Linked DNA regions of Homo sapiens. The protein of the gene in region 1 interacts with the protein of each later gene in a pairwise test. Each region holds a gene or a part of one and is shown on either strand. Other genes may lie near its edges.

Region 1 (5,097 bases):
TCCTGCCTCAGCCTCCCAAGTAGCTGGGATTACAGGTGCCTGCCACCACACCCAGCTAAATTTTGTATTTTTAGTAGAGACAGAGTTTCACCATGTTGGCTAGGCTGGTCTTGAACTCCTGACCTCAAGTGATCTGCCCACTTCGGCCTCCCAAAGTGCTGGGATTACAGGTGTGAGCCACCATGCCCAGCCTTTTTTGCCTTTTAAATTTCATATTATTTGCATATTACCTACTAAATAAGTATTTTTAGAAATACACCTGGAAAATCCAAGCATTCAACGTAAGTATGGTAAACCATTTTGTTAAAAAAAAATTACCAGTTATTACAGATACAAAGAAGAAAAAGCTATAAAAAGGAGAACAAGATGAACAGGCACCTTAGAACAGCCACAAGTTATGCAAGAGAACCAAAATGACCAAAAAGCTCAGATGACAGCAAGGTGACTAAATAAATAATTCATCATTATAGTCCTTCTATTTTTCTTTTTTCTGTATAATCCTCTTAATACATTTTAACAAACAAAAATAAATAAAAAAGGTGAGGCATGATGCTGACATCTATAATCCCAGCACGTTGGGAGGCCAAGACAGGAGGATCATCTGAGCCCAGGAGTTCGAGACCAGCCTCAGCAACACAGCTAGACCCTGTTTCTACAAAAAAAAAAAAAAAAAAAAAAAAAAAAATCAGCCAGTCATGGTAGCATGCACCTGTGGTCCTAGCTACTCAGGAGGATTGATTGAGCCTGGGAGGTTGGGGCTGCAGTGGGCCTTGATTGGCCACCACACTCCAGCCTGGGCAACAGAGCCAAACCCTGTCTCTCAAAAAACAAGAACAACAACAACAAACATATATATATATCACACACACACACACATACACACACCTTAAGTCACTTATTTTCAGACATAAAACACTAAACGTTTATCTAGCCCAGGCTCCATGGCTCATGCCTGTAATCCCAGCACTTTGGGAGGCCAAAACGGGAGGATCACTTGAGCCCAGGAGTTTGAGACCAGCCTGGGCAATATGGCAAACACGGTCTCTACAAAAAATACAAAAAAAATTATTAGCCAGGCATGGTGGTGTGCACCTATAGTCCCAGTACTCAGGGGGCTGAAGTGGGAGGATCGCTTAAGCCCAGGAGGCAGAGGTTGCTGTGAGTTGAGATCATGCCACTGCACTCTAGCCTGGGTGAGAGAGTAAGACCCTGTCTCAAAAAAATAAATAAATAAATAAAAGTTTATCTAAATGTGTATTATCCTGTCTACCTCCAGAAAGGACTTATGAACAGAAATGTTCAATTTGAAAAGTCAAATAATGCTGTTCTACATAACACCACATTCAAATGATTACAACAGCTAAAACCTATGTCTATATTCTTGGTACAGCTCCTAGTAAATTCTACATATACTTCAAATCTTAAACCAAAGGACCCTTCCCTGATTCCATAAACTAGGATAGGTTCCCAATTACATTTCTCCTTTGTATTACTGTGCAGTTACTAGTTTGGCAAAGTCCATTTGCCTGGCTGATATGTAAGCTCCATGAACACAGCTGTATGTCCCTTTATCTGCTCAATCATCCTTGTTCACTAAGACAGTAAGGAGGTCAACAAGTATTTCTTGAATAAAGAAACCTAATAGAAGAAACTTCTTGTATTTTTTGTGACAGGGTCTCACTCTGTTGCCCAGGCCAGACTGCACTGGTCAGATCATGGCTCATTGCAACCTCTGCCTCCAGACTCAAGCAATCCTCCTACCTCAGCCTCCTGGGTAGCTGGGACTACAGTCATGCACCACCACACCCTGTTAATTTTTGTATTTTTAGTAGAGACAGGGTTTTGCCACGTTACCCAGGCTGGTCTCAAACTCCTGGCCTCAAACAATCCACCCGCCTCAGCCTCCCAAAGTGCTGGCTGGGATTACAGGCATGAGCCACTGCGCCCGGCCAGAAAACCAACAGAAGAAACTTCTACTTGTACATTTTGAATGAAAAATTTATTTTATCAAGAAAAAAAGCCTGTAAAATTACAGATTGTTTGTTTAATGTAGGAACACACTTTTATTTTTATAAGAAATGTAGAGATAATTTGTTGAATCAGATGTAAAAACATCAAATCAACAACTTTTTTTAAAAAACCTTAACGTCACAGGAAAGAGAACCTAAATAAAATTACGTTACGGGCCAAAGGGAAATTTTATAAATTCAGTTTCTGCTTTTCTGGGGAATTAATATTTTAGAGGGATATGTCTGCTTAAGGCAAAGCAATGTATCCTAGTCTCTTGATCTAATTATCAATATTCAGAAAATGGTCCACTTCTCAGCCAACAGTCTGTGGATTCCAGGGGGTCAAGACACTTTCATGGGGTCAATTAAGTCAGAACTACTTTCACAAGAATGCTCATCTATTATTTGCCTTTTTTCACTCTCATTCTCTCACAAGCGTACAGTGTTGTTTTGCAGAGGTCATGTGATACAGCAAGACTGAATGCAGAAAAAGACACGAGAATTCAGCAGGCTTCTATTAAGAGAGATCTTATAAAGATCTGGAAAAATGTAAAATAATCACTCCTTTCCCTGGTATTTTTTAGCAAATATAATTGGTTTTCATTAAAAATGTTATGTTACGATAATTGCATGAGGTAATGGATACTAACTACCCTTATTTGATCATTAGACCAACATATACATCTATCAAAACATCAAACTGTATCCCATAAATACATACAATTACAATGTGTCCATTTGTAATTTTAAAAATCTTTTTTTTTTTGAGATACAGTCTGTCACCCAGGCTTGGAGTAATCTCAGCTCACTGCAACCTCCGCTTCCCGGGTTCAAGTGATTCTTGTGCCTCAGCCTCCCAAGTAGCTGGGATTACAGATGTGCACCACCACGTCTGGCTAATTTTTAAATTTTTAGTACTGACATGGTTTTGCCATGTTGCCCAGGCTGGTCTCAAACTCCTGACCTCATGTGATCTGCCTGCCTCAGTCTCCCAAAGTGCTGGGATTACAGGCATGCACCACCATACCTGGCCTTAATTAAAAATTTTTAAAATATTATTTAACATGAATCGATTTAGTATTATAGTTTTAAAACAAATAATTATTAAATAAATTTTTAAGTGTTTTAATTTCCAATGTAGTAACTAGCGGTAGATATAACCCACATAAACAAAAGATTTAGAATCTTCAATTTTTAAGAGTAAAGAGATCCTCAAACCAGAAAGTAGGAGAAATTCCTGGTCTAGAATAAGAATTTCTTTGGAACAACCAATTTGATTTTTTCAAAGAATACATTTAAAATAAAAGACAGATGGCACCCATAGATGTAAAGGAACTTTATTTACATAGTAATCAATTGCAATAAATGAACTTTACTTGGATCCTGATTCAAACAAATGGCTTCTAAAAAAGTGAAATGATCACGGAAATAAATACTGGCTCAATATTTGATATCTTAAGAAATTAAGTTTTTTTAAGTGTTAAGAAAGACTATAACTATTGAAGCTGCAAGATGACTACATGGGAGTCACCATGTCAGTTTGACAACATTAATCCTTTTAAATATAAGAACTTAGAAGGTGCTAGCATTGTCTACTTACTTTTTCAATTCTAACTCTGAAAGAGAAACAAGTAACAGTATCAGACAATATAAAAGCCACTGAACTGTCAATTTAAAACAGACTCTCTTCATTTTTAGGATTTATATTGCTATATATTTTTAAAGCAAATGAAAAATGTTCTTTTGGCCGGGTGTGGTGGCTCGCGCTTGTAATCCCAGCACTTTGGGAGGCCAAGGTGGGCGGATCACGAGGTCAGGAGATCGAGACCATCCTGACTAACACGGTAAAACCCCCATCTCTACTAAAAATACAAAAAAATTAGCCAGGCATGGTGGCGGGCGCCTATAGTCCCAGCTACTTGGGAGGCTGAGACAGGAGAATGGCATGAACCCGGGAAGGTGGAGGTTGCAGTGAACCGAGATCGCGCCACTGCACTCCAGCCTGGGCAACAAAGCGAGACTCTGTCTCAAAAAAAATAAAAAAGAAAAATGTTCTTTCACTTCTCCATTTTTCTAAAACCAAATTAATAAGAACAGCCAAGAATATACAGTACTTATTTTAGCACATCTTACAAGTTTAAGCCGTATTAGTGAATACGAATGTTAATTCAACGAATATTTAAAAACTTTCATCAAACGCAGTATGCTGGGGAGCTAAAAATTGAAATAGGTAAACAACCTGAAGGAGCCCACTATCTACTTCACAACCAATATGTAACCCCCCAACCTATAATACAATATAAAATGGTAATTAGTTCCCTGAAAGATATCTAACATAGCTTATTGAAAAAGTGATGATTTCAACAAATGATTACAAATAGGAGGAAAATCTAAACCTTAAATAATGTATTATTTTAATTGTTGCCAACCCTAGAAAAAATAAGCCCAGCATGGTAGTGTGCACCTGTAGTCCCAGCTACTCGGGAGGCTGAGGCAGGAAGATCACCTGAGCCCAAGAGTTCAAGAGCAGCCTCGGCAACATAGTGAGACACTGTCTCATAAAAAAAAAAAAATTTAGGAAACAAAGTTAACAGGCATTCAAAGGCTGACCATTTCCAGGTTTGGCTCTTTGCATCCAAAGCTATGTATCACCTCAGCACTTTCACATATTCCCAGTGGCTGCAGGCCCAAGCCCCCCTACCCCCGCAACTTGTTCAAAGAGGTCTTTTATTAAACGTCACCTTGCAGAGATGATTTCCCTCTAACTAAAGATTTCCTCCTTCAAAGAACTAAACACGAAATTTATATTTAAAATTTTTTGTTTATTGGTTGCCCTTACCACAAGACTATAAATTCTGAGGGCAGGGATAAACTGTTTTCCCTTTGTTTTCTTTACCATTGTAATACACAATCAATAAATACAGGGTGAGTAAACATACTTTAAGGGGTTGAGGCACTTACAGTTTTGTTAAGACACCAATATAACATAAAAGAGGCTGGTACAAAGGATACAATCACTAGACTAGGGAAGGCAGTGACCTTCACCAACTACAAAGAATTTCCTCCTATCTATCTTGTTTTGTACAGC
Region 2 (4,396 bases), on another chromosome or scaffold:
TTAACCAATTGTTCAAGAATTAAAGTCATTATTTCCCCCATTTATCAACAGTTTCACTCTGTCATGTTAAATTTCTGATGAAACCTTAATTACTATAGCTTAATAATAAGCTTTTATATCTGGTAGACACCACCAACCTGGGACCACTGTAAATCAATTTCTTGGTTTTGGATTTTGTAATTTTTACTCCAGACCTGTATGAGGACAGGTGTGTGGTTGCCAATCCTCACTGAACACTATAGTCATTATAATTGTTTTCTTCCTGGAGCTGTATGTGAAGACAGTCATGTTTCCTGGCAACCTTCCTTTGCTGGCAGATGAATGTTTTCTATTCCATTAACAGGGACCCTTTAAGGATTCCTGCTTAATGGAGGCATTTTAAGTTCCCCCAAGACAGACTCTCATTCACTGAGCTGACGTTACTCTTTGCCTCTAGGTCTGCCCCGGCTCTTAAGTTCTCATGAGGAGTTGATTCAAATGTGCTGTACCTTTTTCAGGTGCGGCGGGGAGAGAAGTTTGTTCCTTGGGGATTTCTATCAAGGTTGATCATACACTAAAAGGTATGTTTATTAAAATGTATTCAGGATTTAGTTAGTTATGGTGAGAGGGCTAAGAACATCTGAACCACCATATTGCCAGAAGTAGAAATGTGCTTTGGTTTTTTTCAACAAAAAATAACAACGTGGCACCTTTTAAAAAATGTGGCACATTTTTAAAAACCATCATAGGGTGATAGTTAAGTTACAGTGTAACTTCTGTAACCAATAAATCATATTTTTTAAAGGCTATTTAACATCATGAAGAAATTTTCACAGCCGGTTTAAGATGAATATAAAAGTTGGTATGGTCCTAATATTATTTAAAATAGAAGAAGGAAAAACAGATTATTAAAAGAAGTTTGACAGTTGATGGCAGAGTAACAGAATACGTTAAAGTCTTATATTCCAAATTTTGTACAATAGGGAAAGTTGAGAGGGATATTGCTAAACTAGAAAGAAACTAGAAAGTATCCCCTTTGCAAAATGAGAAACCTAGAAAGCCAACCTAGGAAACTCATTGTTGTACTTATCAGCTAGAGGAAAAGGTAAAACAGTTGATTACTCTGAAATATGTGAAGAGATGATGTTATGTTCATCATACTGGGTGTCCATGCTGCACATGGAATTCAATGAGGTAAACTTGGCCTAACTCCAGCTGGTAGCAAGTACCATAGCTTGAGTTTGAACCCAGGTCCTCTCGAGCTGTTTCTACCTTGTGTCACTATCAATCACTCTGCCTTTTAATCCAGGAACATTAAATTTTTCATACCACTTTCATTCATTTTGGTTTACTATCAGGATACGGTACCTAGGGAAGAGCATGCTTGAGGTAGCTAAGAGGTAGAGTTATTGTACCAAGATGAGTTGTTTAATATGAAAGAGACTGGATACAACTGTTTCACAAAAAGATGTATTTTCATTCATGAGTATTTACATTTTTCATATTTGTTTAAAGAATATCATATAACTGATACCTTCTGAAATGTTTCATGCTTTTAAACTCTTCTATTTACACTTATCTGACATGGAATTAAAACTAAAATGGTCAAATACCATGATAATAGAAAGCAACCAGCCAACATAGCTAGGTCTTCTCTTAAATTTGCTGATCAACATTAGCAGTAGTTACCTTAATAATAAATTATTCATTTTAAAATCAGTAGTAACTTTAGACAATTCATAAATAAGTGTGCTCTGTGCAATTTACACGTTTAATATCCTGTGGATACTAAAAGCTTGTATATTGTCAGATTTGCACATTATTACTTTATCAAAAACAGTAAGCTTTCCCAAAGATGAAGCTGGGGAAACTTGAAAAGATATTCTAAAGGTTCTCTGGAGAGTTATCAAAGCTCTGCCTGCTTTACAGGAGGAGGTTCCAATTTACGCGAGAGGGCAGTTAAAATCTGGTTGAATTTCTCATATCTCTCTGTCTGATTGACTTGTGCACCTTTGCTGCCCCATAGCAATCGCATTTGAAATTCAGTCTTGCAGATTTCATTCATTTCTTCATCTGGTTGAAAACCTAATGAAACAAAATAAACAAAAAGTTACTTCAGTTCTGCCTAAGATGTGTTAAAAATAGACTGAAAGCACCAGGCGCGGTGGCTCACGCCTGTAATCCCAGCACTTTGGGAGGCCGAGGTGGGTGGATCACAAGATCAGGAGATCGAGACCATCCTGGCTAACACAGTGAAATCCCGTCTCTACTAAAAAAATACAAAAAATTAGCCAGGCGTGGTGGCGAGCGCCTGTAGTCCCAGCTACTCGGGAGGCTGAGGCAGGAGAATGGCGTGAACCCGGGAGGTGGAGCTTGCAGTGAGCGAGACTGCGCCACTGCACTGCAGCCTGGGTGACAAGCGAGACTCCATCTCAAAAAAAAAAAAAAAAAAAAAAATAGACTGAAAGCTTGCTTAAAGTAGCATCAAAATGAACATCTTCTCTCTCTCAGAACTTTAAAAAATGTCCCCAAAGAAAAATATAGGATCTGTTCTATATAAGGGAGAGCAGAGCCCCACCCTGCAGAACCTAAGCACCTTCAGAGAAGAAATAACAGGTAAACTCATTAAAAAACAATAGAGTGAAATTGGTTTGTACAAACCACTGTGGGAAGTAGTGCTGTGGGAAGGAGGGTTCATTGTACCTAGGAGTTCGTTACTTGTTTTTACCAACTTTACTGATGTATAGTTTACATGTCATATGATTCACCTGTTTTTGGCTGTGGAGTTTGATTTATGATGGTAAGTTTTTACATAAACCATTACCACCAGTCTTAGAACACTTCCATCACCTTAGTACCTCTTTGCAGTCAATTCCTGTTCCTACTGCAGACCTCAGTCAACCACTGATCTGCTTTCTGTTGCTACTGTTTTGCCTTTTCTAGAAATATGGGATAAATGGAATCATCCACTATGAACTTTTTAATGTGTGACTTCTTTCACTTAGCATGATGTTTTTGAGATTATTCCATATGTTGCATGCTAATCATTCTTACTGATCAATATTCAGTTTTATGGACATGCCATTGTTTTTGTTTATCCATTCACCAATTGATGACATTTGGATTGCTTCTGGCTGCTATGAGTAAGTGGTTGTGAACACTTGTGTACAAATCTTGTGTGGACATGTGTTTTCATTTCTCTAGGAAAGGAATTATTGGGTCATACAATCAGTATATGTTTACTTTTAAAGAAACTATTAAACTCTATTCCAAAATGGCTGTATCATTTTATATTCACAGCAGTAACATATGAAGACTCCAGTTTTTCCACATGCTGCCAACCCTTAGTTTTATCATTTTTTATTTTTATTTTTTTGAGAAGGAGTCTCGCTGTGTTGCCCAGGCTGGAGTGCAGTGGCACGATCCTGGCTCACCACAACCTCTACCTCTCGGGTTCAAGCAATTCTCCTGCCTCAGCCTCCCAAGTAGCTGGGACTACAGGTGTGTGCTACCACGCCTGGCTAATTTTTTGTATTTTCAGTAGAGACGGGGTTTTGCCATGTTGGCCAGGCTGGTCTCGAACTTTTGACCTCAGGTGATCCACCCGCCTCGACCTCCCAAAGTGCTGGGATTACAGACATTAGCCACCGTGCCTGGCCTATCATTCTTTTTAGTTGTAGCCATTCTAGATAGTGTGGTGGTATCTCATTGTGGTTGGTTTAAATTTACATTTCCCTAATGATGAATGCTTTGAACATCTTTTCATGTAGTTGTCATTTGTATGCCTTCTCTGATGTAGTGTCTATTCAAATTTTTGTCTATTTAAATTTTATCTTCTCACTGAGTTGTAAGAGTTCTTTGTATAGCCTAGATGTAAGTCCTTTATCAGATATATGTGTACTCAATGTTTTCTGCTGTGGTTCATGCTTTTTGTGTCCTAAGAATTTCTTTCTTTCTTTTTTTTTTTTTTTTTTTTTGAGATGGAGTTTTGCTTTTGTTGCCCAGGCTGAAGTGCAATGGTGCAACCTCTGCCTCCTGGGTTCAAGCAATTCTCCTGCCTCAGCCTCCCGAGTAGCTGAGATTACAGGCATGCGCCACCACGCCCGGCTAATTTTGTATTTTTAGTAGAGACGGGGTTTCTCCACGTTGGTCAGGCTGGTCTTGAACTCCCGACCTCAGGTGATCCGCCTGCCTCAGCCTCCCAAAATGCTGGGATTACAGGCGTGAGCCACCGTGCCTGGCCAAGAAGTCTTTACTTAGCTTAAGGGCACAAAGAATTTCTCCTATGTTTTCTTACAGAAGGTTATACTTTAGCTCTTACATTTTGGGTCTATGATCCATTTTGGATTATTGTGTATGGTATGAGGTAAGGATCGAGATTCACTTTTTTGCATATGGATATCCAATAGCAGATACC

What was found.
Region 2: the proteins of RPRD1A (region 1) and BCAR3 interact in a two-hybrid assay, tested with the Homo sapiens proteins (one large-scale study listed by BioGRID and IntAct).

Annotation. Positions count from the first base shown.
Region 1 is NC_000018.10:36,056,396-36,061,492, forward strand, and holds part of RPRD1A (regulation of nuclear pre-mRNA domain-containing protein 1A), read right to left. Parts: intron 1-5,097. UniProt on the Homo sapiens protein: Interacts with phosphorylated C-terminal heptapeptide repeat domain (CTD) of the largest RNA polymerase II subunit POLR2A, and participates in dephosphorylation of the CTD by RPAP2.
Region 2 is NC_000001.11:93,560,356-93,564,751, forward strand, and holds the end of BCAR3 (breast cancer anti-estrogen resistance protein 3), read right to left. Parts: intron 2,065-4,396; coding exon 1,886-2,064; 3' UTR 1,386-1,885; downstream 1-1,385. UniProt on the Homo sapiens protein: Acts as an adapter protein downstream of several growth factor receptors to promote cell proliferation, migration, and redistribution of actin fibers.